Linked DNA regions of Homo sapiens: region 2 is linked to region 1. Evidence: fine-mapped expression QTL. A gene starts in region 1. The other region holds a variant in brackets. All regions are shown on one strand. Distances are from middle to middle.

Evidence for each region. PIP is the estimated chance that this variant, and not a neighbour inherited with it, causes the effect.
Region 2: its variant is the best candidate, but not a certain one, in a credible set for the expression of KCNE4 in lung (TOPMed, PIP 0.52).

The regions. Positions count from the first base shown.
Region 1 is chr2:223,045,373-223,057,390 of GRCh38, reverse strand. It overlaps KCNE4 (potassium voltage-gated channel subfamily E regulatory subunit 4), which reads right to left and starts at 5,201. Exons shown (of 2, transcript NM_080671.4): 1 at 5,117-5,201; 2 at 1,754-4,583. The coding sequence starts at 4,560. The coding sequence ends at 4,048. RefSeq lists enhancers at 4,346-4,893, 8,546-8,605.
Region 2 is chr2:223,111,709-223,123,726 of GRCh38, reverse strand. LOC124907986 (a long non-coding RNA gene) reads right to left here. Exons shown (of 2, transcript XR_007088096.1): 2 at 1,706-1,989. LOC105373905 (a long non-coding RNA gene) reads left to right here and starts at 11,357. Exons shown (of 3, transcript XR_923950.4): 1 at 11,357-11,446. The variant C/T (reference allele first, on the strand shown) is at 6,011.

The DNA.
Region 1 (12,018 bases):
TAGAAAGCCAGACATAACAAGGCTGAGGCTCCACTGGCCACTATTTACACCCTACCTCCCCGCGTTTCAGGCGTAGCCTGAGCCACCATCCTGACCAACTGGCTGACAGGTCTCCCTCCAGCGCTAGACTCTGCCTCTAGTCCCATGACCGATGATATGTCCTGTGATTTTCTTCAGCACAGTACACAGACTTTAAGGAAAGGGCATGAGGCAAAAGTATGCTCTGCCTGAAGCTGGAGTTTAAGTTACATTTTAAGCTCAATGTTCTGTTTGTTCCACAATGTCTACGGTCAGAGCAGCATTTTACAGGATGATAAATTACCCTCGTTTAGCTGAATCCTAGAAGTGCATGTCTGACCATGAAACCCTCCAGTTGCAGCTCTGAAAGGCACCAGGGGGTCCACTTTCCAACCAGAATCATGAGCCAAGAGCATTCATTCCTTGGCCTGACTTCAGCCTTTCCCAGTAGATTTGATCCCATGATTCTACCAGTGAAAGAAATCTTCTACTGTGTAACATCCCTGCCTGACTCTGACGTACAAAGGTGTAATTAGAACAGTGTGGAGCAGGCAGGATGATCCATTTACCTCATCCCTAACATTTAAGTGCTTTCAAAATATGTTTTTAATATCTTAGGTGCACAGGGCCAAATTATCCTCTCAGTTTTTCACATGCATGAGTAAATCCACACAGACTAAACCCCTTGGGCCTTAGGTTCTGCTTAGAAATTCTTTTTTTTTTTTAAAGAAAACAAATATCCCATTAAAACGACAAAGTGTACTCTGCATATTTTTAGGACAATTAGAGTTTAGAATTCCCTCTCCTTCCACCCATGGCTTAAAAAAATAGAAAAATTCTTAACCATTTCCTTACGAAGAACGACATTAAACTGGGACAAATGGAAAGGCTCTCTTGCCTTTTACAGCAATCTTCTCATCTTACATCATCAAAGTACCAACTGATGGATCAGGGCCCTCGATATTGTTTGGGAAGGATCCAGGCTCCACTGTACTGTTGCCAGGTAAATTTTTTAGGTAGACAGTTACTAGTGAACTGAAGGGAAACACTTACTTGAAACAGAAAAGCCAATCTCACAGGAAACAGAGAAACATAAAAGTAAGGATGCTTCCTACCATTTGCTTGATTCAAAAACAGGTCATGCAAATAAAATTATGAAGAAGAGGCTGCCGCAGGCTGGCCACGGCCTCAGCCTGTGGGCAAGAGATACAGACAGACCAAGTGGGAGGGGCTGGAATCAGTCCCAGTCTGAAGGAGACCAGGAGAGGGAGGAGAGTCAACCCCAGCCCCACACGTCGTGCTTCACTGTGTTGGTAAGTTTGTGTTGCTGTTCATACAGCAGCTCTTTGCCCATTAGCAGGTGCTGCTGGGCCACATGTGTGGATAATATTTGCCAAGCCAACATACAGGTCAAACGTTTTCTTGCAACCAAGCTTGGAGCAACATCTTAGCAGCAGTTGACCTGTCACTGCATGTTCAAAGTCCAAAGACTCCAGGGCTGCCATATTTAAACAGAGAAGTCCATGTAAGACCATCTGCAGCTTGTTTTCCATTCATTACAAAGCATTTCAAAGGATGAAAAGCCAAGCCTCATTCACCCCATGGTTCAGACAGAAATAAGATACGCCCTCAGGAGATACTGACTTGGGAGAGGAGCAAAATCCAGAGATGTCTTGGGAAACGTATCTGTGATGTCTTCGAAACTAACAATTATATTGAAAAATCAAACAAAGAATTCATGACTTCCCAGGAGGGAAAAAATGTGTTTATTTATTTAAATTAAAAAATATTGTGAAAATTACAAAGTGTTAAATACAAAAGACAATTCTATACAACTCAACAGAATAAGAAGGAAGTATATACATCACTTTTTAATAGGTGCAGAGAGACTTGCACCAAACTTCAGGATTAAGCAATGGAAAATGTGACAAGGCACATGTCCGTCGCAGTGAAATTTCAGAATTCAAGTGATTCCAGGCAAGAGGCCAAACTTAACTTGGCTTCTTTCAACTTAAACAGCCCCCTTTGGCATAAGTCCACACTGAATTTTAAAGTGAACAGAGGGCCTTTTTCCCCCAAACATAAATTTCCTTTAGCTGTATGTCAAAGCGGACTGATAAACCAGCTCCTACACTGTTAACCCTTCCATGGCAACAGTAGTTATTGCTGTGTCTCCAATCCATGCAGAGCATTTTTCTTTAAAAAAAAAAAAAGTGGCCGGGTGCAGTGGCTCATGCCTGTAATCCCAGCACTTTGGGAGGCCGAGGTGGGAGGATCATTTAAGGCCAGGAGTTTGAGACCAGCCTGGCCAAAATGGCGAAACCCCATCTCTACTAAAAATCAAAAAATTAGCTGGGCGTGGTGGCAGGCGCCTGTAATCCCAGCTACTCAGGAGGCTGAGGCAGGAGAATCGCTGAAACCCAGGAGGTGGAGGTTGCAGTGAGCCAAGATTGCACCACTGCACTCCAGCCTGGGCAACAGAGCGAGATTCTGTCTTAAAAATAAAAAATAATAATAAATAAATAATTTTTTTAAAAGTTTTTTTAAATAGATTTAAATTTGACCTTTTACTTCCTCCTTGTCTTTAAGGGCCTAACGGATCTGCGAAACTGTTGACCACAGGAATACTTGGAGACATTGGAAGCATTCCTGTGTGTTTTCCTTTAGACTTTGCTTTCCCTTAGCTGGGAGTGTTAACATCACACATTCTCCAGAGAACTTTGCAGAGGAGAATGTGGTGTCTGCCTCTTTCCTTCAGTCCTGGGAAAACTACAGCAGGGCTGGGTTGGTAGCTTGCCCTGAATTCCCCAGTTATATGTGTTCTGAATCTCCAACTGCTCCTTTAAATCAGCAGATCCTTGTTCAGACTAACCGGCCAAAGGGGAAGCATTTGGTCCAAGCTTCCTCACACCAGGCTGTGGAATATTTATCACAGAGTCCTAAAATCTAAAGACATCCTCCCAACCCCCTGGGGATGGAGATCGTCGGGAGCCTCATGCAGACAGCGAGCTTCTTGATGACATGCCCGGGACCACACAGCAAATGAGTGTCAGGGCTCGGGATCAGGAAGCACAGAACTTGGAGCCCAGCTTTGTGCAATCTCCGCCTGAGTATGCCCTTCTAGGTCTCAGCTACGTGACGAAATACCACATTATGTCCTCTCCCAGCTCAGAAAACTAGGCTGGGAAACTGAGCAGCAGCAGAGCTAACGGCTTGGCCTTGTTCAACCCCACTTTACCCCTTCTAGAAAGATCAGGAAGAGTCTCCTGAACCACCATCGGGAGTGCAGGTTAGATTCTGGGGAAGCTCTTCTGATCCAAAGAACGTCATGCCATCATGTGATGCTGCATGGTCACAGGTCAGAGTTCAAGGTCATAAGTTAGACAAAAGGTCAAAATAGAAGATCATCTCTTATAACCCCGGCCAATGTTAACAGGTTTAAAAGTTACTTTTTTTTCTTATAGTGTGCAAATGGGCTGGGTTCAGATCTCCAGCTTTCTCCCATCAAAAATCCCCCTCTAATCCAAAAGAAGCTTGTAACCCACTGTGAAGGAATGCCACAGGTACACAGTAGAGATACTTACAGCCAATCAGATCTAGAAGGACAAAGCTCTAGGCAAAATAGCAAATCACAACTAGTCTCTCAGCGTGTCCTAAGCATTCGGCAGCCCTGGGAACAGGCAGACCCTGCAGGAGCTACCCAGGGCATCCAGTGAGAAAATGGCAAACATATCATCCCGCCAAATTCTGATCAGAACCCCAACACCCAGGCCCCAAAGTCAGTGTACGCGCTGCGCATCTCCGCGGCTTTTTCAGTGGTGGGTGCAAACCACAGGCACCTCCCGGACTCCTTGGAGGTGCTGGTTCCGGCTGAGCCTAGTCCCCCACCCCACCCCGAATCAGGGGTTTACCAAGGGTCTCTTCAAAGTGGCAGCCGCACTGTGAAAGTGAAACCAGACACTTGAAAACTGTCTTTCCTCTCTCTAAGGTTGCTGGCTGATGGAGCCACCGGCAGGGGTCCCGGGGGTGCTAGGAATTCTGATGGATGTTCTCCGAGGACCCTTCGCTGCTCTCGTTGAGGGGCGTCTCCGAGGTCTCCTCCAGCTCATCGTCTGCCCCCTCCTCCTGAATGGTGAGGTGCACGTCCGGGGAGGAGGACTCGGAGCTCACGCTGTCCCCTTCCATGGAACAGAGGGTGCAGGACAGCGCGGGCGCCACGCTCTCCTGCAGCATGTTCAGCATCAGGGGCACCTGCACCGACCTCAGGCCCGACACCACAGGCAGCGGCTTCATGGCCTCCCCCCAGAGCCGCTCCTCGTCTTTGTACAGCAGCAGGAGGCTGGACTTCTTCTCCCGCCTCTTGGATTTCATGTAGCCCAGCATGATTCCGATCAAGAAAATGCCGTAGAAGGACATGACAACCAGAATGTAGAAGTACTCGTTGCCATTGCCGCTGCCGCCGCCGGCCGCACGGGACTCCAGGGGGCTGCTGGAGGCGGCGGTGCCGGGGTGCGTGCTGTTCAGAGGCTCCATTTTCAGCATTGAGGCTGCCTCCACAGCAGGGGCTGGGGAAAAAGCCGCAGGTTAGAACTCTCCCCCAGGTCCTGGGCACAGGGAGGTGGGGGAGCACGAGGTTTGTGGAACTGCAATACCAAAAAAGCTTAAAAGTGCATGAAAGAAATAGCATAAGAGGGTTCGCCAAACAGCTGACAAGAGTGAGCTATGAGGGCTTGGAGTGCACGGGAGAGAAGCCCGGGAAGGTTCACTGGGAAAAGTAAGAAGGACTTTTTTTTTTTTTTTTAGTGTACACATTTGTCCTGTTTGTAGTGAGCAGTATTACTTTGATTAAAAAAAAAATCAATGTAAGACAGGAGCATACAGTAAATAGTATCTTTAAAACTGGGAAACGTATTTTAACTGAGCAGAAACAAAGTTTACATTGTGTTTCCAAAACCAAACTATTTTAAATTCAAAACAATGTTTCCTTAGAACAAAGAAAAGCAGGAAGAAAATAAAGGAAAAAAATTCATCTATTAATTGGCAAAAATGTCCCTCTTTCAAATGTTTCTGAAAGCAAAGTGTAGCCTTGCTGACTTACCAAGGCTGACAGTTTGTCCCAAGTTTTGAATTCCCAAATCGTCCAGTCCAAGAGGGTTCTTCTGCTCTGTCCGGCTCTGCGCTCTGACAACTCCGCTGCTGCAGTTGGGATATATAGTCAAGAAGTGCATCGTCACGTGCTCTGGGAGGAAAATTTACAACAGAGATTGATCGTGGCAGAGTGAGCAGTGAACTGAAAGCACTGCAGTTCAACTCCCTGAACTTTGCAGCTGTGAAAAGTGAAAAAGACTGGGAAGTGGGAACTGCTCCTCAAGCCCCAGCACCCGGCCAGGGTTTTCAGGTAGCGGTGACGATGAGTGAAAAGAGGAGAAAGGGATGTGCTGTGCTGGAACCGTTACCCCAAAGTCCGCGCTCACTGAAAATTAGCTCATGCTTCGCGCGGCTCCTGGGGAATAACCATTATTGGGCTACAGGTTTTCAGAGGCAGCTGAATCCCATAATCTGGATGAAAGACAGTTGGAAGCAAGTGCGGGATTTACAGTCAAGGAACTGGGGCTTCGGTTTCAGTTCTTCCACTCCTTATGCAAATAAGATAAATCCTTCCTTAACCTCTCCGCACCTCACATTCCTCGTCTGTAAAATCGTTGTGCCTGGCGGGGGGGGGGGTCTTCTGCAGGTAGGATTATATAAACCACGTGACCTTTTGAGACCCTTTCAGCTTAACCCTTCTAAGATTGAAGGCTGCCTGGTGTTGCTTAGCCCTCTAAAAGCAGAGATTCTAGCTGCCTTCCACATCAAGGTCACAAACCTATGTTTATAATAATTTTTTTTTAAAAGCTCCCACATTCTTTTCAGTGGTCTGCATTAAGTGGAAACATGTTGTCGTAAAAGATACTATGGGCAGGTTTTGTTCCGTCCTGCCATACACAGCTGCTCCTCTGAAGCCTCATGCGGAGGCTATTGACACGTCTCTTTGCTGTCTCTCGTAGGTCAGGGGAGGAGCAGGACTATTTCAGAGTGCAACTAAGCACAGTTCAAGTTTTTTAAACCTCGGTAGACCCTGTGTTTAAATGGCTGCTGTGATCAAAATTGGAAGAGGAATTGCAGGCTTTAATGTCAGTCTCTCTGCTCCCTGGGCTGCTTATTCTGAGGCTTTCATGCTAAGTGGAAGGAAACTGGGAGAGATCCACTCCCTCCAGTTGTCTGTGGCCTGTGGATTGCAGCCAGACTGTCTTGTGGGCCAACTCTAAAGGAAACATCTCTCATGGTTCTGCTGTAGTCAAACTGACGCATGCGACATCCACCTGACCTGCTTGAACATATATAGCTTAGGCACTGGAATTTTCACTGCTGCTACAGGAACCCCCCTGGGTTTGCACCTGATCCTGATTCTAAGAAGACACCTGGAGGAAGAATAGGAAGATGAACTGAATGCTGCCATTTTTCCCACTTGACTACTCACCTGTGTTCATCCATAAATCCCCAGCTGGCACTGGAGGTACCAACCATCGACCACTCCAGCATCACGATCATCCATACAGTGGAACTGTGCTCACACCAGTAAAGATACCCTCACCATTGTGTTAATACGTAAAACCCTCCATAGCTACCTCAGCCATGGTAGACTTGGTCTTTTCAACAGGTGTCCATCATAAACACTAGAACACTTCCATCTATATCTAAGCCTACACTGGAATGTCTGGGACACTAGAACAAGATGGGCCCAAGAAAGAGATGCCTGTTGATTGTTGACCCTGGTATTTTTTATTGTATACCTTAGGACATACGAGATTGGTCATCATCCAGGGATTGTCCAACACCAAAGACTGGAAGCTTTGAGTAGGCAGAAAGGAGGTGGGGATAGGAGTTACCAGATTCAAGGAGCAGGAAGTACAAAGCCTGGTGCCAGGAAGCCAAACAGAGGCTGAAGTTTTAAACATAATAAATCCCCAAACCTGAGCCAACAGTCCCAAGGGAATACAACCAAGAAAAGAGATGAGTGTGGGGAAACATCGAGAATGAATTCCAAAGGACGAAGCAAGTCAGAGCCAAAGGAAAAGCAGGACTAATTGCAGGAGTCAGGGAAGGAACAGCCCAGAAGAAATTCTGGGGTGCCTGCTTGGAGTCCCTGCTGCCCCGATTCCCACATACTTCCTGCATGGATATTTCTACTAGAGTTAAACGAGGCCAACTGCAGTGTCTTAGTTCAGTAATCCCAATGCTTGAAGAGGCTGAGGTGGATGAATCACTTGAACCCAGGTGTTTGAGACCAGCGTGGGCAACACAGTGAGACCCCATCTCTACAAAAAAATACAAAAATTAACTAGGCCTGGTGGCGAGTGCCTGTAGTCCCAGCTACTTGGGAGGCTGGGGTGGGAGGATCACTCGAGACCAGGAGTTCAAGGCTGCAATGAGGTCTGAACATGCCACTACACTCCAGCCTGGGTGACAGAGCGAGATCTCTAAATAAATAGAATAGAATAGAATAGAATAGAATAGAATAGAACAGAACAGAATAAAATAGTTCAATGAAATGATGCAAAGAAAGCACCATGTCTGGCCAAATGCACATGCTCAGTGCCTGTGTTTAGTTGTCATTGTTAGGAGTACGCTGTTGCTCCCAAGGGCTTCAGGTTGCCTCCTGTCATGTGTGTGCCCATCTCCAGACTTTTAACTCCAGACTTTTTATCACTGCTCCTTCCCCTGTCTGTCACTCCCAGGAATGGAATTTAAGAGAAGGGAATTCCAACTTCAAAATGCATAGCTCAATCTTCTTCCCAGCCCTCACTCATGACAGGGATTGCGAGAATGATGGCACTGAATAATGGCATAAAGAATGAGGGAGAGAGGGTACATCTAGAAAGTGCACTCTGTCGGGAGAGGATGGGACTGCACAAGAATTATTAATTATATCTACCCCGGGCCTCAGTTTTAGGAGACAGCAATGTTAAAGAAATAAATCAATTTCGGCTAGCATTTCCATTTCCTGAACAGTGTCTTTTCAGGAGCAAACATATCTAATTCTGATGAAGTCCAATTTATTTTAAATGTTTTTGGTTGTGCTGTTTGAATCCTATCAAAGAAATATTTGCTTAACCCAGTCATGAGGATTTTCTCCTGTTTTGCTTCTAGAAGTTTTATGGTTTCAGCCTTACATTTAGGTCTATGATACATTTCAAGTTAATTTTAGTCTAAAATGTAAGATATAGGTCAAGGATTTTGGGGAGGGGTTGTTTGTTTTTGTTTTGCTTATGGATGTCCAATTGCTCCAGCATCATTTGTTGAAAAGACTCCTTTTCCTATTTAAAATTATCTTGGAAACTTTGTTGAAAATCAATTAACCTTATATAAGCAGGTCTATTTCTTAACTCTTCATTCTGTTCCTTTGATCTATCTGTCTATCTTTGCATCGATATTATTCTGTTTTGATAAATCCATTTTAAACTTGTATTTTAAATGAGTCTAAGATACACTGCAGTTCAAATCTAGCTTAGTGTCTATCATATACCAAGTACACATAAGTCCTGTGAGGTCAGGTATTATTACAACCATTTCATAGATAAGGAAACTGAAAGTCAAAGAGTCAAAGAGGCAAAGTTGCTCCAGGTCAAATCACTAGCAGTACAGTCAGTACTTGACCCCAGATCTATGCAACTCCAAAACCCATTCTTTTTCCACTACCTTTTGTCTCACTGAATGGAAAACAAAAAGAAACTGAGAAAGAGTAGGAAGTGAAAGATGGACATTTTTCCAACTTCTTTTGAGTCTTCATAAAACTTTTTTTTTAAAAAAAATGTGAATTCTGACATAACTAGATACTCACACATAAATACACACGTGGAACTACAAGTTGTCTTTTTCTGAATTCATATTATTTTAAGTACTGGAGGCTGCACCAACCTCAGCATGTTCTAGAAGTTATCAGTGAAGCAGTAATACTCTTACCGTATACCTATGTTGTCCATAGTACAGTAGTTTCTCTGCCTACATATACAGCCTGATATGGTTTGGCTCTGTGTCCCCACCCAAATCTCACCTCGAATTGTAATCCTCACGTGTCAAAGGTGGGACCAGGTGGAGGTAATTGAATCATGGGGGCTGTTTCCCCCATGCTGCTCTCATGATAGTGACTGAGTCTCACGAGACCTGATGGTTTTATAAGCGTCTGGCATTTCCTTTGCTTGCACGCACTCCATCCTGCCACCCTGTAAAGAAGGTACCTGCTTCTCCTTTGCCTTCCGCCATGACTGTAAGTTTCCTGAGGCCTTCCCAGCAATACAGAACTGTGAGTCAGTGAAACCTCTTTCCTTTATGAATTACCCAGTCTCAGGTATGTCTTTATTAGCGATGTGAGAACAGACTAACATAAGCCTGTTCTGGTCTTCTTGTTTTAATGTGGGTTTTTTTGTTTGTTTGTTTGTTTGTTTTTTCCTATTTGATCCTGACACACACTTTCTCTAGAGCTTTGAGTACTTTCATTTCCTGGTAACGTCATTTTTACCAGATGACCCAGGAGTCCCTGGCCACACATCTCTGAAATTATGTTAACAGCTTCTGTGACTAAACAAAGTCTATGCTGGGATAACAGCATGGCTGTGAATCTCATCGGATTAAACGTAAGTCTGGAGTCCAGAAATCTGACCCAGCTCAGCCTTGCTGATGCTACGTGACTGGCTGGGTTGCATAATTGCTCTGTGTTTCAGTTTTAGCCACCCTCAGGCATGTCAAAAGTAGCATCATTAATTGTCTCAGGATCCTGAGAAATCTCCCATAATCCACTGGGCTGTCCCCCTCCTGAGCAGACCAGGCTTTGGGTCTGGCAGAATATTGCAAAATGAAATCCTCAGTGCCCACCACTGGTTTTGCTTTTCCCAGAAATTCTGTCTGAAAAGTTCTGTCTGGGAACTCGAGCAGTGGATCATCCCTTCTAATGCCCTGAGTCACCCTCCCTGGACACATACTTTTTAGCATTCCTATCACTAGAAATAAAACAGGGCTGGATATCTGACAGGTCCTTAGTAAGGTCCCCAGGCCCTCCCTGTAACACCAGCTATGCTGTGGAGGATGTGGCTATCAGCAGGTCCTGCTTAGATATCACCCAAAGGGGGTTAAGAGGGAAGAACCAGAACTCCTAAAATTAACAGTGAAGTTGGTATTAATTCACCTTTGTTATGTATTATTCAAGCATTTTTAACCTGATATTTATTTAACAAATACTTGCATAGTACCTAAAAGTGCCTCAGGAATTGCTGTAAGTACTTTGCAAAGTTTATCTTATTTAATTCTCATAAAAAGCCCTTGAGATAGGCTCTGTTATTATCCCCATTATACAATAAGGAAACTGAAGCAGAGAATGCTGGAGCAGCCTGCCCCAGATCACACAGCTAGTACATGGCAGAGCTGGCATTGGAACCCAGAGCTGAAAAAAGAGAAGGGAAAGAAAAAAAAGAGAGAAGAAAAACATTGCCTCTGCCTCTATAGACCTTACCATTGGTGAGGGAGGCAGACAAGAATCCCAAAATTGTGTGTTTAAAGTTGCAAGAATGACAAATATTGCAAAAGAGAAAGGATGCTAGGAAAGTTAATATTAAGGGGATTGAATTCCTTAGAGAAATCAGGGAGGACCCCCTAGAGGAAGTGATCCTTGAGTTGGGATCTGAAGATTGAGCAGGAATTAGCCCAGATGAAGTGAGAAGGTAAGAGAATTCTGGCCAACGGTAATCTGTGGAAAGATCCTTCGGAGGAAGAAAGTGGGGAGGGAAGAGAGATGGCAAGAATGAGGAACTAAAAAGTCTATGGGGACTCTGTCAAGGAACAAAAAGGAACCTGGTAGAAGATGCAGCAGGAGAGGCCAGCATGGGCCAGAAATGTGCCACCTGGGAGCATGAGGACAGGAGACCAAGGAAGTAAAAGATAGATTCCTGCTTTGAAGAGCTCAAGTACCAACTGGGGAGACAACCCCAAGGCCTGGGGCGAGTGTGTGATCATTCAGGACTGACTGAATGCATGATCGCTGAGCACATGCAAAGAACAAACTAAGAGCATACATGCCTGTGCACAGTTAGCACCAAGGAAACCAGAGTGAGGAGTTGACTGACTTAATGAGTGTGTTTGTGAATAACCGTGGGAACACAGACTTTGCTTCCAAGATTCTTATCAAGAGTTCCAGACAGGCCAGGCGCGGTGGCCCACGCCTATAATCCCAGCACTTTGGGAGTCCGAGGTGGGCGGATCACGAGGTCAGGAGATCGAGACCATCCCGACTAATACGGTGAAACCCCGTCTCTACTTAAAAAATGCAAAAAAATTAGCCAGGTGTAGTGGCAGGTGCCTGTAGTCCCAGCTACTCGGGAGGCTGAGGCAGGAGAATGGCGTGAACCTGGGAGGCGGAGCTTGCAGTGAGCGGAGATCGCACCACTGCACTCCAGCCTGGGCCACAGAGTGAGATTCGGTCTCAAAAAAAAATAAAAAATAAAAAATAAAAAAAAAGAGTTCCAGACAATTAAACTAAAGCTCTTGAATGTATCTCAACCACATTTCTCAAGAGCTATCAGTGGTGTGCTTAGAGTAATTCCTGAAACTTTGACAAGGTGACACAGAACTCCCAGAAGCAATAAGACAAATCAACATGTCAGTGAGTGTAGTTTTAAAAGATGGGCTTAAAAGTACGCAGATGGCAAATCCAAGTGTCAGGAACTCAGATCAGATGATGGTACAGCATATAGTTTAAGGGCACAGGCTCTGTGGTCAGGCTGCCTAGGCCTGTCTTGGTTCTTCCTACTAGCTGTGTGACCATGGGCACATTTCTTAACCTCTCTGTGCCTCTCTTAAAGAGGCATAAGAGTATCTATCTCATAAGGTTGTTGTGAGGAAGAAATAGAATTATCCACTATTGCACCTTCTGTTTAGACTGAGCGCCAAGACAAAAATACAAAAGGTTTG
Region 2 (12,018 bases), 66 kb before region 1:
TCGGTCAGCAGAGGTGAGATTCTGCAACAGTAACAAAAGACTCAAAAATCTCAAGAGTATTTCTTCTTTTCAATGCTCCTTGGCCATCAAGTGTCAGCCCTGGTCTGCCCTACCATTCCTGGACCTAAATGGAAGGAGCAACCCATACTAGGAACATTGTTGGGCTCACCAAAGAGGGAAGAGAGAGAGAGAGGTGTGGCCCAAGAGTGGCTCTTAAAGCTTCCATGTGGAAGTGCTGTGTGTCCCCTGTGCCCATATTTCAGTGGTCAATACAAATTACATGATGGCTTCCAAGTTCAACACGATGGGAATGGATAGTAAGCAGGGGGACTAAAAGTCACATGGCCAGCTAGAGGGGATTAGAAAACCAAGGCTAAGAATGGCCAAGTGACTGTCCCAGGGCCACCCAAATAAGAAGCAGCAGAGTGAGGACTGCCCAGATTCTCTGTCAGATCTCCGTGCCTAACAAAGTGCCTGGCCAATTACCTCTCTGCACTGAGAGAGGTATGCATTCAATAAATACTCCTCTGAATGAATTAAGTAAACAAACGAGTGAATGACTTACTGAATGACTATTGAAACTCAACTCTGCCAAGGTTTTGTCTTGGCAATGCTAATTTACAGGAAAGACCTGTTGGCATAATTAAGTTGGAAAGTGCTGTTTGCAAAGTAACCCTGGAAGTGTCACCTTTCACAGCTCTCATGAGAACAAATCATCACTGGCAGCCATGTCAACACAAATAAGCCAAAGGAACCTTGTCAACACTGACGGTCTCCATTTTTATATTTAAAAAAAGGCACCAGAGAGGCTGGCCAGGCTACGCTCTGAGCTGGAGCCAAAAAGCTATTGCAGTCTCCTGCATTGAGACTTTGTGTTCTTTTCCATTGTGAGCGATTGAGCTACTGTGTAATATTTCCAGCCTGTCCTTCCTGTGACAGTTCAACCAAAGTTTAGTAATTTGTAAGAAAAATCTTAAATGATACCTCTTAAGTATACAATACTCTTTAGCCACAGGCTAAACTGCCTCACCTTAACCCCAATAGAAGACAATAGAAAAATCTTACTACAGTACTGAGTAAGATGAAAATAGGAATCTGCTAAGGTAATACAAAGATAGTTCATCTTTCAGCTTATTCTGAAATGATTTGTTTACTTGAGCAATTTCAACTTTTTTTTTTTTTTTTTGAGACACAGTCTTGTTCTGTCACCGAGGCAGGAGTGCAATGGCACAATCTCGGCTCATTGCAACCTCCGCCTTCCAGGTTCAAACAATTCTCCTGCCTCAGCCTCCAGAGTAGCTTGGATTACCGGTGCCCACCACCACACTTGGCTAATTTTTGTAGTTTTAGTAGAGACGGGATTTCATCGTGTCAGCCAGACTGGTCTCGAACTCCTGACCTCAAGTTATCCACTCGCCTTGGCCTCCCAAAGTGCTGGAATTACAGGCGCAAACCACTGCACCCGACCCACAACTTTTGAAGACAGTATTAAACATTTAAAGCTTAAAATAGTAAAAATCAGATGAAAAAGTATTCTTCTACTCCCATGTGAAAGTTTCTTTTTTCTCTAAAAAAAAGAAGAGGAAGGAGGATGAGAAGTCCATTAAAATGTTTTGTATGACATATTTGATGCAGTAGTGCATGACCAACAAGAAAAGAGTGGATAAAAATCTGTTACAGGAAGTGAATCAACTTTACACAACTCTTAAACTGTCCAATGATTTTTATTTAAGCATATGAAATAAACTTGACTCTCACATTTTATATATGTTATGGATCAATATTATAAACTCAATAGAGAAGCTTAGGTTTTTTAGTTTGTATGTCATCCATTGGGTCTCCCATGAAGACCTACACATAATAGGTATGTACTTATTGCAAATTAACCTGCACTAATATCCTCATCAAGGAAGTATAATTGGCAAACGTCCTTCCATTTTTGTCTATTCTTGAGGGCTCCATTATTCATCTGAAGTCTTCTTCCAAGACCTGGGGGTGTTAACAAATACAGAAGCATTTCAATTTCATAAGTCTGACTTTCTCATTTCAGAAGCCAGTGCCAATAAACCTCTTTTTGGAAGGCAAACATCAAAGGCCCACCTTTCCAGTGCTAATTACCCAAATAGAAAGAGAAACACAATTCTTAAGTGGATAACTGTTCCCAGCAGTTAGAGATCTAATCCTGGTCTTTGGTCAGGATATGATTAGTGTGTGAGTGTTGAGATATTCTGTTTATGTATTCCATGTTTGATCTGGTGTTCAGCCATGTGCCAATAATAACAACAAAAACAGTAGCATTTGTTGTGTATCTTCTATGTGCCAAGTAATCTTCTGAGTACTTTACATGTATTAAAACATTTAATGCAGCCTCTATGTTATGTCCCATGGTTCTCAGCCTTGCCAGCACATTAAAATTACGCAGGGAGTTTTTAAAACAAGAAACCCATATGCCCAGGGCACACTGCCTTGACCAACAAAATCAGAATCTCTGGGAGTGGACCCAGACTTTATAAATCTTCCCCAAGTGATTTTAATGTACAGTCAAGGTAATTAAAAAGTTTGACCTAGTCTAAAAACAAGGGACAAATACAGTCATGCAGCTTTGGTTAATCACTTAAGACATGGTCTATAAGCAGAAAATCTAATAGTTCCTTCTTAAGACATGCTCTCCATCTAAGTATTCAAGTGACTAGGGACTCATTTGGTCCAACTTTGGGAGTAACTGAGGACCAGTCTTACTTCCAAGTGCCAGGTAGAGCAAGCCCTGGATCCTAACAGCCCTCTGATGGCCCTGCATCTCATTGCCACAGGCATCTATGCAACACTCTAGGGGTGCAGCTTGGTTCTTGTTGCATTGATTTTTTAATCTTGCAACTTTACTGAATGTATTAGTTCTAAGATTATTTTTGTAAAGTCTTTAGGGTTTTCTACATATAAGATTATGTCATCTGCAAACAGAGACAACAAGCTTTGGAGAGGATGTAGAGAAACAGGAGCCTACACAGTGTTGATGGGAATGTAAATTAGCACAGCCATTATGAAAAATAGTATAGAAGCTCCTCGAAAAAAAATGGAACCAACATGTAATCCAGCTATTACATTATATTACATATAATAGCCAATTCTGGCTATACAGCCAAAGGAAAGGAAATCAGTATGTTGAAGAGATATCTGCACTCCCATGTTCACTGAAGCATTCTTCACAATAGCCAAGACATGAAATCAAACTAAGGGCCCATCAACAAATAAATAGATTAAGAAAATTGTCATATATATTCAGAGTGGAATACTATTCAGCCTTAAAAAGAAAAACAAGAATCCTGCATTTGCAAAAACATGGATGAACCTGAAGGACATTGTGTGAAATTAAATAAGCCAGGCACAGAAAGACAACTACTGCATAATCTCACTGATATATGGAACCTGAAAATGTCAAACTCACAGAAGCAAAGAGTAAAATGGTGGTTACCAGAGGCTGAGGGGTGGGGAGATTTGGGGAAACAAAGAGAGAGAAGCAGGATCAGAGGGCACTGGAGGGTCATACAGTGACCTGAATTTGACACCAAGTGAAGGCAAAGGGTAAGAGTCAAAGGGAAAAAGAGAAGAGCACCAAGCTTCCACCCTCGTCCTAGTGTCTGAGGCCAGGAGTTGAAGGCGTCTCTCTGTCTGCTAGTGCCAGGCACACAGTGCAGCTTCAGAGGCCCCCATGGCTAGAACTGGATAGATTCTGCTAAACCCCCAAGGGTCCAATTCACTTTCCAGCCAGAATCCAGCCCAGTGGCTTTTTTTCTCAGCTGATTCAACCCTTCTTCTCATTACCCAAAGCTCCAGTACCCTTCCTACTATTCCTGCAGAGATTAATTTATCTCCAATAACCCCAGTAGGAACCAAAGCTTTCCTGTTACACACAATCAAGATGTAATTCCAAGTTATGTTTGAGTATATAGGAAGAAAGTTCAGCCATATGTACAGAAATGGCAATGATTTTAACCTGTAACTCTACCTACTAATAGCCATTGGAAGGCATCTAAAAGATGTGGATAGATTTCCTCTAAGGAGGTGCAGGCCATACCAACAAACTGCTCAACATTGCCATTTTAAAGGTGTGGGAAGTAAGAGCTTGTTTCCACATACCCACCATGAGCTGAGTGAGAACAACAGGATTATGAATTGGATTCACATGTCTAAAATTGGGTCCTGCACCAAGTCCCTCGTGATGAGTAAAACTGAGAAAAAGAACCCAGAAACACATCCATGACAGCTTAATAGGATTTAAACAACTCTATCTCATTAACTTTTCAAGGGAACCCTGGCAAAGTATGAAATTTAAGCACCACTCCAGGCTGAGAACAGTTATCTGTTGTTCATGTCACTGCACCTGCCCTATACTCCAAAGACATGGGCCACAGCTGCTTCTCCCAAATGTGCCCTAGAATATCTAAAGGGTTGGCTGGCACACAGCAGGAGGGCATTCTGTTAGTGAGGGATGCCCCTTTTGAAGCTGTGTGTGCATAGCAAGTGCCCAGTTTTTATTTAGATTGCATATTTATTTGGAGTAGGATGGGTAGAAATTCCAACAGGGCTGAAGCCCTTCCAAGCCATATTTTTGCTCCAACGTAGGTATATCCAAAGTGAACACGAACCTCAATGGCAGAGTGAAAAGTGGCCCAATATGCTCTATCTATTGCAATGTGGGAAGCTTCTTTTTCTTGTATTTTCCTTTATTTTGATCTTTTTTTTTTTTTGGCAAAAGTAAAAGGATAGAGAAGCATGAATAGAAAATTTTCTATAATAAGAATACTATCAAGAAAATCCCCAAATTCTTAAGTTGGTTAAATGTTGTGAAAGAGATTTATCAAGAAATTTAATCATCTTTAAGTATTTCTCAGAACAGATACACTTTCAGAGAATCAAGAGATGCTTACTTTCTTTTCTCAGAACTGTTGTATACCACTTAAGCATTTTCCTGAAGGGAAACTGCCCCAACCAAGGGAAGGTCACCGGTGCACGCCATCTTTGACATAAATGTGACTTGTTTGATTTCCTGAGAATGAAAAGCCACCAATCCATCTTATCAGCAACACATTTTGTGAATGATACAAGCATCTGCTTCTTGACAAGACTGGAGTGATTAATACCATCCGAGAAAGGGTTAATTAAATTACCATCTATTTTCAAGCCATCCTGAAATAACCTTGTGGGAATTCTTTGAACCTGAGAAAAGCCACCAAATAAAGAAATTTGATGCGTAGTTCCCCTCACAAGGATAGTTTTGGCTATTTGGCAACAGGAAAGAGTTCTGGCAACAAAACCCTCTAAGGAGGACACTCCCATAGTTGCCAATTAACAGAAAGTCATCTGGGGAGAATGCACTATTCAGAGAATACAGTTGGCAGAACCTGTATCAACATATTTGCAGGTGAATTACTGTATGCAGTTGTTCAATGGTTTTGCCTCTGCTCTTTGGCAAGAAGGGAATTAGACGCAGGATGTGATTACTACCTTTAATATTCAACTTGGAAAGTTTCAGTCGTATGCATCATCTCATGGATGTCCGCATTCAGTTTCTTAAAAGTCTTTCAAAATGAAAGTACTATGTTAATTGATGTAAGACCACTACCCACCCTTTGGAGATACATCACCTGCTCCAGAAATTCCACTATGTACCCCCTCCCTGCACCCCAGGCTCCACACCTCCTTCAAAGCACACCCATGGTAACGAAGTCCTCCCTGCATCACAAATCAGATCACAGTGTGGAGGAATTTCCTGCTTAGACATCTTCTTCCATAATGGACCGGAAGCCTCTCCAGACTGGGAACTGGATCTCCTCCTTCTTCCTGTGTCTCCATCTGGAGCACAGTGCCTGGTACAAAGCAGGTTCTCTGCAACTGGTAGCTGAGTTCAAGTGAACTGAGACCCTTGGGGACGGGATTTCCCAGTGCTTTTAAATGTGCTTTTAAATGTGCTATTTAACCCTCCTTCCTATGTGAAATAAAAGGGGACTTTTTA[C/T]AGACATTAAATTTCCTATGAGCCATTTCTCAAAACTAAAATATGTTTATATGTGTTTTCCGCTATGCTAACCCCTGGTGTTTTCCGGTCTTCAACCAGAGCTCTTCTTCAAGCTGTGACCCATTCCTTTGTTTCAAGTGTTTTAATACTTGTTTTTTTTTTTTTTTTTTCCATCTCCATGGTGTTTTTCCTTCTGCAAATTATTTTTCCCTTTGGACCTCCTTCCTCCAGCAGTGTACAGGCCTGTGAAAGTAAAGTTTGAAGAGTCTTCCTGATTTTTACAGGAAGCTCTAAGAAAGAAGTAGATGAATATTATCCATGTTTAAATAGGATTCATTTGTCTGGTGTTTACCTACTATTGTAGTGTTCCACTAAAATTTAATAGAAAAAGTTTCAATGGAATACCTTGCCTTTTAATTAAAAGCCACAATTTTATTTGAATGTCAGAAATGCACTAAAGAAAATTGGCTGGAATATTTTAGGGAAGTGATTTGGAGACCTAAAAAGGTGAACAAGGTACAAAGGGGAAGATGTATGATAAACTCAAAACATACTCAAAATTTAAGTGTGCCTTACAATTGTAGATTTAAATGATTCTTAATATCATATGAACCTCATTGTGTATATAATAGGAAGTTAGAATTCAAGCCCCATGACGGCAGGGTCTATGTCTGACTTGCTACTCTCCCTAGTACTCATCAAAGCACCTGGTGCATAGCAGCCTCAATATTTGTTAAATTAATGAATATTTCTGAGTAATTAAATAAGTGGGGTTAACAGAAGTGAGTCCAAATGGATGAAAATACTACCTATTTCCCTCATACACCTCATTATACCTCATTATAGCACTGGGAATAGAAAATTGACTCAATCCAAAATAAGTCTACCAACAATTATTCAACTAACCACTGAGATCATGCAGAAGTTGTGCATAAAATAAAGATAAAAGATTTTGCCCTTGTCCTCAAGACAATTATTCTCAAGCTATGGGCTCCATACGCACACGAAATTAACAAGAGGAAAGGCAACAGATTCCTCTGTTTTTCCATTTTAAGCAGTGAGCCAAGAAAAACTATACATAACTGTTTACCTACAGGATCTGTGATATTTTATATAATGCCTATGAGGAAAAATGACTATTTCCACAGCTTTCGGTTTAAGAAATGAAAAGAGGTGGTTGGGCTTAGGATATTAGAGATAAGAAAAGCCCCAAAATTGGAATCTCTGATTTGAAGCATTTTAGCTGTATAATCTGGAATACTACCCAGTGGTAGCAGAAGTTAATGTTTATTAGGCCTAATATGAACTTTCCACTGTTCTACTATAATATTTCCACTATTGCAAGCACTTTCCACTATTCACGCACTCCTTTAACAACCCCGTTAAACAGCTGTCATTACTGTATGATTGGCATTTTACTGATTTAGACAACTGAGGCTCAGAATGCCTAACTTGCCAAAGGTTGTGCAACCACTGAGAGGCTAGCTCAGGATCTGACCACAGGTGGCCAGATAGGAGAGCCCACCCTCAGACCACCATGGATAGTGGTGACTATGGCTTGTGCTGATTCTCAATCAGTGATATCACTGTCATTTGGTGATTCTCAATCACTGAATCTTAGTCAGTGCTAATCAGTGCCATCCCTTCTGGAGGTCCACTGAGCCTCATAACAACTTTGGGAGGATCCTTTTGATCCTCAGTTTATTGATGAGAAAACGAAGGCTCAGGGAGGTCAGGTAACAGAAGATGTAAATTACAGAGTGTATAGCCGGTGACTCCAAATCTGGCTTCTTTCACTATAGCATGGTGCCTCTCAAATGACAAGTATGTGTCATCACTCTGTCACAAAATGTGGGGAAGGTCTATGCTTCCAGAAAGTTTTGGTCTTCAAGATGCTCGCATGAACCAAAACAAAGAGAACCACAGTTGCGGCTTACTGAGACTTTTTTTTTAATTTATGCGAATGAAATCTCTCTGGCTACCTCTCTTGCAATGCTTGATGATCTTTGGCATCTGAGCTGCCCTATTCTTGTTCCTACAGGTTTTCTAAACACTGGTAATAAGTGTGAAGAATCTAGCAGTGTCTTGGAGCACAGCAAACATTGGTGACTACATTTTGCATCCCAATGGCTATCTTAAATGTGAAGAATTTTTGGTAATCTCCCTCAGAGGTTTTAGACATTAAGTTTTTCATTATAGAACAAGATCAATGCGGCTACTTTTTACATAATTCATATCATGAGGACCTGATAACATTCCAGTGACTCTTTGTAGTACCTCAAAAGAAATGAAGTTCCTTCTAAAATGCATTAGCCAGTCAAGAATACAATGTTCTGGTAAGGCTGCTGAAGGCTGCCATGTGATATCAAAGATTTCCAAAGAATATCTGAGTCATGAATCCTTCATTTAGTGATTTAAGATTATTATGAAGCATCTGACCCCCAATCCAAAATGTAAAACACTAATAAACTCTTTAAAATATTCAAGTTAAACACAATTTATTATCTTAATATCCTCCTACTAATTATGCAGTTGTCATCATTCTCAAAATTAAATGACTGCTTCCTACAGTGCTGGGAAAAGAGGAAGTGCCTGACCTCAAGAAACTTAAACCACAGCAGGCATGATTCCTTCTACCTCAGTTTCCCTACATGAGAAGACTTCCTTAAAGGTGAAGTTTGGATTGGAAACCATATCGGACAGGTCCGGCTCCAACCAAGTCCCCAGAGAACTTCTTCTTCTTTTTTTTTTTTTTTTTTTTAAGGTGGAGTCTCCCTCTGTCGCCAGATTGGAGTGCAGTGGCGCAATCTCGGCTCACTGCAATCATCTCCGCCTCCCAGGTTCAAGCGATTCTCCTGCCTCAGCCTCCCAAGTAGCTGGGATTACAGGGGCATGCCACCACACCCAGCTAATTTTTGTATTTTTAGTAGAGACGGGGTTTCACCATGTTGGCCAGGATGGTCTTGATCTCCTGACCTCTTGATCCGCCTGCCTCGGCCTCCCAAAGTGCTGGGATTACAGGCGTGAGCCACTGCGCCCGGCCAGTCCCCAAAGAACTTCTACAAGCTCACCCCTCCACTCCCTACTCTCCAGTATGTTGGAATTATGCAGTCTTTCATTTTTAGAAATGTATGTGTAAAAGACCTCAAAGAATCTTCAGCTCCAGTCTCCTACTTTACACTTGTTTGTAATTTTTCTGGTTTTTGAAGATCCTAAGAACTTAATCTATAATTTTCTCTTGCTTATTAGGCTAGAGACTTATTATGGACTCCAATGGTCTAATAAAATGCTCTTTCCTGAAACTTAAACCCATTTCCTGTTGAATTCTATACAGCTGGAGAGTCGTGTTGACTTTTCGTGTCTGAAATAACAATCATGAAGCCTTCACTGCTTTTTCTTTTATGAGTCAACAACTGTCTTAGTTAAATTATTTCTGTACGCAAGAAACAGAAACCAGCTTTAATAAATGTTTAATAAAACTTCACAAGGAATTTATTATAAGGGGATATTACATTCTATATAAGGACAAGGATACACCTGAACCTCAGAAAAGGACTAAAACTATGAAATGAAGCAGCTCTGGAACCAAGGTGACTCTCCTATCAGTAACAAGTAGAGAGTTCAAACAGAGCCTGAAGCCAGACTCCCCAGGTTCAAGTCCCAGGTCCACCACAGGCTCTACCTTCAGAGAAGGGCCATCATCACAACCAGTCCTTCTTCCTCATGATCAAATCATGTATTCCTTTCTGAAACTCCTGAAGTTCCATTACACCTCGCTAAATGTTGCACTCTCTCAAAAGTATAGAACAAACTCTATGGGCAGAAAGAGAGAAGCTCAGTATTCTTCACCTGTAGAAGTCAATACTTTTCCTGGAATGAGAAATAGACCGTTTGTACCTCTATCTAATATCACTACTTCTACTACATAACTGACCCACATGCTACACTCTCATTGAGCTTAGTAGAATTAAGACAATAGAGTCTTTTTAAAAATAGTTTATCTATTCATTTTGATTTTGAGGACAGTTTAGTTTGTGTCTTCAAGTAAGTGGTAGTGATTTGCCCTAACTGAGTTTTACACTCTTTTAGAGGTTCTAATTTCTTCCTTTCCTATCTTTCAGACTACTGTCTGGAATTCGATTACTATCTTTCAGACTCTCAGCACCCTATTATTTCAGGCCATCTGAAAACTCAACAACTACATTCTTGATGCCATTCTTCAGCTGCTAATCCATCTTCAAGTTTGGTCACCCACAGCATGTATGACAGATGTCATACAAAGCAGATGGCAGTTGCCATCAGCACCAACCCCTTTTATCCTTTCTGCCAAAGGCTGACAAACCTTATGGTAATCTTCAATGAGTCACAGCCTTGTATAATCCCTCCCTGTGAATGTGGGCAGAACTTGTGACTTACTTCTAGCCAATAAAATATGGCAATGGTGATGAGATGTTACCCCCATGATTATGTGACATTACTTGAAACACTGTTTCAGCACACTGGAGTAAGATTCTCTTGCTGGCTTTAATGAACTAAGCTGTCATGTTGCAAGGGAATCTATCAGAGGTCCACATAGCAAGGAATGGGAGTGGCCCCTAGGAGCTGACAGTGTCCCCAGCCACTGTCAACCAGCAGGAAAATGGGGACCTGAGTCCTACAACCCCAAGGAACTGAACTCGGTCAACAATCTCAAAAGCTCAGAGGAAAACTCTGGCTCCAGGAAGGAATGCAACCCAGGCAGCAACTTCATTTCAGCCTCATGAGTTCCTGAGCACAGAATCCAAGTAAGCCATGTCTGGACTCCTAACTCATGGTAAATGCAAATTATAAATGAATGGTGTCTTAGGCCACTGAATTTGTGGTAATTTGTTATGCAGCAAGATAAAACTAGTGAAGCATTCATCTCCTCCCCATCCATTCCCTAACCTTCCATGACCCCTCCTTATGCTGAACATGCAATAAATCAACGCCCGCCTTAGCTGATCATTAAAACATAAGGAAGGGAGGTGATATTGACTGAGCACCCATGATCTGCCAGACAAAATACAAAATCTCTTTTAATTCTATGAGGTAGGTATTGCTGACTTCGCTAATGTTTCATTTTCTTATCTGAAAACTGGGTGTCATGGACTGAATTGTATCCCCCTCCTAAAAAATTTATAGGTTGAAGCCCTAACCCCCAATGTGACTGTATTTGTGGAAAGGGCCTATAAGGAGATAATAAAGGTTGAAGGGGTCATAAAGGTTGTGCCCTAATCCAACAGGACTGATAGCCTTACAAGAAGAAGAGACACCAGAGAGCTCTCTCTTTGTGTGCACAGGGAAAAGACCATGGGAGAACACAGAGAGAAGGCATCATCTGAAGCCGAGGAGAGAGGCCTTGCCAGAAACGGACCCTGCTGGCACCTTGGTCTTGGACTTTCAGCCTCCAAAATGGTGAGAAAATAAATTTCAGTTGTGTAAACCACCCAGTCTGCAGCATTTTGTTATGGCAGCCTGAACAGACTAATACACTGGGGATAAGCATTTTGACTACAGTTGCCCATTAAGACAGACATGGAGGCAAATCATGTCACCACCCTTCCCGCTTCCTGATTATCCATCTTTGTGTCAGTAGATATTAACTATGAGGGTCTATAGCATTGACTCTTTTTTCTCTACTTCCTTCTCCTCTTCATGCTCATACAATATCTTGATTATCAAGCATTGTCTTTAAGGTAGGGATAGGAAAGAGTGTTCCAATTTAATTCCAGGTAGCTCCAGCCCAACTCTGATCCTGACAGGTCGACCAAGTAATGCTCTGATAGGAAATGCCTTCCCTGGATTTCTCAGGCAGGCCCTCAATCTTCCCACTCTTTTAGTTGCTGTGTGATATTCTGAAATTGTTCTTTTATAATCCTAATTTTTCTCTGTGCCTCATTTTCCTCATCTGCATATTGAGGAAAATTATGGCCCCTATCTCATAATGTTGTAGTGATAATAAGTTAGTCTAAACAAAGAATTTAGCT